Homo sapiens: one gene and its partner. The protein of the gene in region 1 interacts with the protein of each later gene in a pairwise test. Each region holds a gene or a part of one and is shown on either strand. Other genes may lie near its edges. The genes, in order: GULP1 and SMC2.

Region 1 (3,836 bases):
AACAATTATGGGTGAACACTGATCTATCACTGATAATTGCAATCCTTCTTAGAAAGTTAATTTAAATGCCCTTTTACTCATTTTTGACTGCAGCTGTGTAGCTATCTTATTTTCTAGGTAGTACATGAATTCATTATTGTTCTAGATGTAATAACATGCCTGAATTTAAAAGTTGAATTACTTAACATATGTCTTGAGGTTTTCAAAGAATCTATTAAAACAGTGTTTCTCAAGTTGAATGATTCTTAATCCCCTTTTACATAAAAATTGTTTTAGATCCTTAGTATTAACTTACAATTTTTAAATATTGACAAAAATGTTATAAACAACTTGTCCTTATGGTTTTTATAAAATTATGAATTCAATAAATTATAAATTAAATGAAAGCCAAATTGCAACACCAATACAGGACGGATGATCTTATTTGGTTAAAGCTAAAACCACCTTATCAAATTTCTATTGATTTCAACATGTATTCTATCTGATGGCACAGATTTCCTAGTTCTTTTCTATATTTCAAACGCTATGAAACTTTCAAATGGCGCATGATAATTTAGCAAGAATGCTGTATTTCATATGAAATCAATTCCTTTTCTTTTACATTAGTTTTACCCATTGGACATGTACTATCTGGTACTAATGCTTTTGTAGTAACAAAGAAATATTTATGTGGTAGTATTTATTCTCAAGGGTTGCACAGGTCATACAGAGTACTTCTCTAAAAATTTTTTAGATTTTCCCAAAATTGGAAAAAAAATTATGGAGTTTTAAGGATAAGCCTCTATTTCCAGATTTTGTTGAAACCAAGTGTGAGACACAATGTATTGGGATGATTGAGTGATGGTGACACTCAATGTTAAACCGTGGTGTTTTTGCTTTTGCTGTTTCTAATATTTTCTTAATGTCTTTTTAAATTCTTTACTGCTTTCATGGTGGGTAGCGCCAGAGATGGTTGGTATATTATTTTTATAATAATTTTAAACAACTTACAAATTTTTAAAGCTGAAACCTTAAAATTTGCATGCCTTATTTAATAAAAATTCAAACAACAGCTTCATATGGGTATATCTGATAATTAGTTATGTTTAGAGAGGTTTTATAAACCACATTTTAAGATTATTTTTCAGTGACTTAGTCACTATTGCATTGTTCACTTCATTGTTTCCTTTCTTTTCTTTTTTTTTTTGAGGCAGAGTCTCACTCTATCGCCCTACCCAAGCTGGAGTGCAGTGGCATGATCTTGGCTCACTGCAACCTCCACCGCCCGGGCTCAAGCAATCTTCCCTCCTCAGCTTCCTGAGTAGCTGAGACTACAAGTGTGCACTACCACGCGTGGCTAATTTTTGTATTTTTTGTTAAAAACAGGGTTTCATCATGTTGTCCAGACTGGGCTTGAACTGCTGGGCTCAAGCGATCTACCCACTTAGACCTCCCAAAGTGCTTGGACCACAGGCATGAGCCACCATACTTGGCCATGATTGTTTCTTTTAGTCCAATATTTACTTGCAAGGTCACTTTAACAAAAGTAAAATAATATTTTCTTCATCTAAAGTCTATGATGGCTTTTATTATTAATCGTGCTAGCCTAATGAATCTAATGCAGACATTTAGCTATCTTTGCATATCATATAAAAACTTAATATAGTACAATGGGTTGTGAACACCATATTGAGTTAATAAGCCTAGTGAGACATTTAGTTTTCATCTTTCATTTACAGAGTATTGTGACTAAGCTATTTTTAAGAGAATCGAATTATTAAGTTTGAAATCACAGAAACATCTCATGCATGTAAGCATTTATGCAGAAATGTTAGACCATATTTCAGTATAAGCAGTTAGAAAATTAAACATCTATTTGAAATCAATAATGTAGCTATTTGATTTGACATAATTTAAACTGTCCAGTACATGTCACCAACAGGAAAATAAGTGGAATAGTATTGATAGCCCACACTGTAACATGTGAGCTATAATAATTTAATACATTAAAAAACAAGCATGGCAAGTTCATGAATGATGAAAGAATCATGTATGAGTGGTGTTAAGTCAGCTAGCTAGTACTCTGGGAGAAGATCAATGTACTGCTGAAACTTACAGCAAATGCCGAGATAAATTTCAGAAGTAATCAACATTTTAAAATATTTAAAATATTATTGAATATTCATCAGACTTTTGAATTGAAAAGAAAATTTTATAAGGAAAAGAAAAATACGGACATATAGTATCCAATTTTTTAAAATTTACTGTCTAAAAATATATAAATACATTACATATACATAATTAAAGCAATTAGACAAATGGCTAGGAAACTAAAGAATCAACAGATAAATAAAAAAGCACTAGTTCACAAAAGAAGACCACAAGTGGCTTACACATATGTAGACATGTTCTGTCTAATCAAAGTAAACATATAAATCAAATAAAGAACTGTAATGCTATTTTAATCTAGCAGATTATTTTTTAAACTAATAATCAATCAATACAACTGAAAGTGTGATAAAACAAGCACTGTAAATTGTTGGCAGTCCAGAGTTAGTTCAGAGGTAACTATGGCCTAGCAGTCTCTTTAAAGGGTAGCTTGTTATTAATACTTTTATTTCTGTTTGATATCAAAACTTTAAAGCAATCTATTCTGATGAAAAAATAAGTATGAATGTGTTCAATCTCTGCGAATAAAAATACCTAGTCAACATTATTCATAATTTTAAAATGCTGAACGATTTTTTTTCAAATCAACGTAAAATGCATTTTTACGATGGAAACAATCATAAAAATTAATAGCATTTTATATAGTCATAATAAATTAGTTTTGTGGGAATTTAAAATAATCAGGGTCTGCAAAGATGAAAAGAGGAAGATAGAAAACTATATGTAATATATTACTTACATAAGAAAATTATATGGCATAAATATATATTCATATTATCATTAAAATCATTTTTAAAAATGTATAGATAGAAAAAAAGACATACCTCAAAATGTAGTGATTTTTCTTTCCTTGATATGCTTTTCTATTTCAAAATAAGAAAATTCATCAAAATCTTTCGTATAAAAAGCATATGGTGAATAATACTTTAATTATTTAATCATTCTTTTGTGTGACGTTAGCTTATGATAATTCCCATCACTACATAAGTAAATAAAGTCTCATTTTTATTAAGAAGTTTGAAGCTCAACAGGTGTGGGAAATTTTATCTGAGGAAGAAAGAAAATCAAGAAACCTTATAATATGTAAGGATCCTTAAAAAGTCAATATGGAGATAGATATTATTGTAAGTCATATACTAACACTTTATTATTAAAATAGTGATTGACCTCTGTTTTACTTTGGCTGCTATTCTGCTTTTCCAATATTGATAACACATTGACAAATAGTATTTTCAGGGTAATTGAAGTGATACTGGTTTACTAGCAGAATGAACTGATAAAATTTAAAAGTACCGTATGGTATCAAACATTTCCACATGTAACTCTCTTTCTATCTGTCATTATCTATCAATGTATCATCTATTTACCATTTGTAATATACCAGAAGATGACATAATATACAGATCTTCAGATATCCAAATAAAATAATTTTAAAGAAAAGTTTACTTACAGTATTTTAGTTTAAAGTATTTATTTTTCTAAGTATTTGCTGGCTGTTTGAAAAATATAAATAAATATGGCAAAATGTATTTTGTGATAAGAATAGATTTTTAAAAAATAATGATAAGTAGTCTCATATTTACTCAACTAAATAAAGATTGTATTCCAAGTACTGGAAAGACATTTTGAAAAACTTTCACAATGATTACATCACTGTAATTGCTATATAGTAGTAGTCTCTGTGCTGT
Region 2 (3,836 bases), on another chromosome or scaffold:
GACATTTTAAAATTTTTGGTTTGTTAAAACCATTTTGCTGATTCTACTTTCATTTCACTTTAATGTGTTGTCCAAAAGAGCTCCTGATGAGTAAAGTATAACTTTTTCTACTTTATTATCTAAGATTAATTTTTGTCAACTTTTGTATTTCAGGGATCCAGAGAAGAACTGGAATAGAAATTGTGTGAAAGGACTTGTGGCTTCTCTGATTAGTGTGAAAGACACTTCTGCAACCACAGCTTTAGAATTAGTGGCTGGAGAACGACTCTACAATGTTGTAGTAGACACAGAAGTAAGTTGATTTTAATTTTAAAAAATTTAAAATTTGGTTAGCTTGAAAAGTCATGTGCTGCTAAAAGAATTAAATACTTTGATGTTTTAAGGCTCTCCCCTAAGGTGACTTATTTATAGGGTAAAACTATTTGGTTCATAACTTTTTGATAACTATTCCAAAGGAGGTCTCATGCTTACTCAGAAACTCAGAATGCATATTACCAATCTTAAACTTTTGGGATCTCTTTGCTGTATAAGTTGAATTTAATTTGTAAAATAATCTGGGAATAAATGACCTGTTTTTGATGTCAGTCTTCCCATCAAGGTAACATTGAATTTATTTACATTTCTTCAGTTCTCACTTATTATCCTTCTGTAGAATGCTCATATTCTTTCCTGTAAATGCTACGTAGTCATTGTCAAATTTACTTCCTTGTTTTTTTTTTAATTTATTTTATATATATATTTAAAATGTACAAGAAGCCTGGGTATGGTGGCTCACACCTGTAATCCCAGCACTTTGGGAGGCTGAGGTGGGCAGATCATTTGAGCCCAGGAGCTCGAGACCAGCCTCAGCAACGTGGCAAAACCCCATCTCTACTGAAAATACAAAAGTTACCCAGGCGTAGTGGCGTGCGCCTGGAGTCCTAGCGACTCTGGAGGCTGAGGCACAAGAATTGCTTGAACTTGGGAAGTGGAGGTTGCGGTAAGCTGCGGTAAGCTGAGATTGCACCACTGCGCTCCTGCCTGGGCAACAGAGGAAGACTGTATCTCAAAAAAAAAAAGAAAAAAACAAACGTACAAGATGTTTTGATACATATACATAGTGAAATGATTATTGTAGTCAGACATATTAACATAGCCATTCACCTTCCATAGTTACCTTTTTTGTGTGTGACAGCACCTAAAATTTACTCTTAGCAAATTTTCAGTATATAGTATTAATTATAGTCCTCATGCTATACATTACATCTCTGAATAGGTAGATTTATTTATCCTACCCAACTGCAAATATGTACCCTTTGACCTATGACCTACTTCTACCCATTTTCTTTCACTCCTCATCCCTGATAACCACTATCCTACTCTTTTTATTTGTTCAGCTTTTTTTTTTAAAAGATTCCATGTACAAGTGAGGTCATACAGTTTTTTATTTTTTCTTCGTCTGATTATGTCACTTAGCATCATGTCCTCTGGGTTTATTCATGTTGTCCCAAATGGCAGCATCTCCTTTTTCAAGTTCAAATGATGTTCCATTGCATATGTAATTATAACTTGATTGGGATAAATGGCACTAAACATTCATTTATTATAGACTACTAAACTTGCATTCTCTCAATTTTCTGTCATTTTTAACATGCGTTTTTTAAATTCAAATGTGTGTTGTAGGTTACTGGTAAAAAGCTACTAGAAAGGGGGGAACTGAAACGTCGATACACTATAATTCCACTCAATAAAATTTCAGCCAGATGTATTGCACCAGAAACTCTGAGAGTTGCTCAGAATCTTGTAAGTCTCATTTTGTCTTATTTATATGTTTAATCGTCATCTGTGGTTTTTTTAAGTTAGAAGACATTAATTTTGAGGGACATAATCATATGCAGAACCACAAAATTAAAATACAAAAAAATTGGGTTGGCTTGTGCAATTAGATGATAAGAGAATAGAGATGTTGGAAGACTTGAACTCCTTTTGATGCTTCACTTTGTGGTATTAGAATGTCCTTTTTAACCTTAAGTCACATGACTATCAATCAGGTGATGGTGAAAATTACACTCTTGATTCCTGAATGGTTAGAACTGAGCTTCTAGATACGTACCCCAAATTCTTCAAGTTTTTGTTTTTGTTTCTTTTTATGTCAGGCATACTAAAACTGCCCACAGTCACAGCCATTATGGAAGGCCTTCATTAGTATTGCAGTGATGCTTCTTTATTAGAGTTCTTCTAGATTGCTATTCAGCCTGTGCAGGTACATAGCAGGTGACCAGGATCCCATTCAACTGCTGACGTTGATCTAAAGTGACATGCTTGCTAGTAAGAAAATAGATTAGTACAAGGAAATACATTTAAAAGTTATTGTAGTTGTGTAATACTGTAAAAACATGAAGTCAGTCATAACATTCAGCTGTAATATCAGTTTTTTTATTGATCAGACATTCCAAGTACATCAGTTGAAAAGACATTTCTATGAAACTTAAAAATATACTTGTAACTAAGTGGATGTTGTTGTATCCTTAGTTACATTCAGAAGATTTCAATGCAAATGATTTCAAAATACAGTTGTGTTGATATGTATACTATCAGGAGAGGGAGGATGAGTGCTGAGTAATTGAAAGGTGATGTTTTTGGTTGGTACTTTCTTTACTTGAAAACTCACCATTAAGTCAAGAAGGCTCAGGAAGTTAATTCAGCCATACATCGAGTCCCAGCATTAGAAGGAAATTGGGATTTCAAGTAACAGCAAAAATACTTTGCCTCAAATCCTTTAGCCAAACCTATTTGATGGTAGCTGCCACATCAAAGAACAATACTGAACATGTGTTACATAGAGCTTCCTTCATTGTGACTGCCACTGCTGATACTAAGCTCTAAAAGAGATGCTTAGTTTTTCTTAAATGATGGGCAGAGGTAGCCTCTATAAACAAAGGCTGAGAAGAAGCATTGTGATCAAAATAGAGGACTGGGGATTTTTTAAATTACTTTTACTCTCAGTTATTGTGTTTTCATTTCTGTAACTGGCAGACGACTGCTCTAGCATGTTTCATTTGTATGAGAAAATATTTGTTGTGAAATCAAATTCCTGATTATTGAAACAACATTTTCATATAGTTGTGTTGATCTGGAAATTATAGGTTAAGCACTCCAAGTCCAACAACTGAAATTTTCCAAAATTCAAAACTATGACACCCAAAAAATGCTCATTGGAGTATTTTGGATTTAGAAAGTTCAACCACTGTAATACAAATATACCAAAATCTGAAAACAAACACTTCTGTTCTAAGCATTTAGGATAAAGGATACTCAATCTGTACTATAATTAAAGTTGTGTCCAGTCAACGTTGGTGAAGGACACTTAGAAACATGGTAATGGCTCCTTATTGATAGAAACTTTCATAATGCTCCATACTAGCTATTAATAAATATTTTACTTAGCAATAAATCTTTCAGTATTTAAACCTGCAGTTTTTTTTTCCTGAAACTTTGAGTTTTACATAGCTTTTTAGAAAATTCAGAAAGAGTTTTAATGCTAGGTAAGTATTATTTAAGTTTCTATTACAGCAGTTTTTACTGGTTTATAAAATCATATCTGAAAGGAAAAGTAGTAGTATGTACTGTGGCATATCTGTTGTTGTCCCACAGGTTGGCCCTGACAACGTTCATGTGGCTCTTTCCTTGGTTGAATATAAACCAGAACTTCAGAAAGCAATGGAGTTTGTCTTTGGAACAACATTTGTTTGTGACAATATGGATAATGCCAAAAAAGTGGCCTTTGATAAGAGGATAATGACTAGAACTGTAACTCTCGGAGGTGATGTGTTTGATCCTCATGGGACATTGAGTGG

The links.
Region 2: the proteins of GULP1 (region 1) and SMC2 interact in a two-hybrid assay, tested with the Homo sapiens proteins (one large-scale study listed by BioGRID and IntAct).

The regions. Positions count from the first base shown.
Region 1 is NC_000002.12:188,588,800-188,592,635, forward strand, and holds part of GULP1 (PTB domain-containing engulfment adapter protein 1), read left to right. Parts: exon of another isoform or gene 1-940; coding exon of another isoform or gene 941-951; intron 952-3,836. UniProt on the Homo sapiens protein: May function as an adapter protein. Required for efficient phagocytosis of apoptotic cells. Modulates cellular glycosphingolipid and cholesterol transport. May play a role in the internalization and endosomal trafficking of various LRP1 ligands, such as PSAP.
Region 2 is NC_000009.12:104,114,538-104,118,373, forward strand, and holds part of SMC2 (structural maintenance of chromosomes protein 2), read left to right. Parts: intron 1-153; coding exon 154-292; intron 293-1,662; coding exon 1,663-1,782; intron 1,783-3,633; coding exon 3,634-3,836. UniProt on the Homo sapiens protein: Central component of the condensin complex, a complex required for conversion of interphase chromatin into mitotic-like condense chromosomes.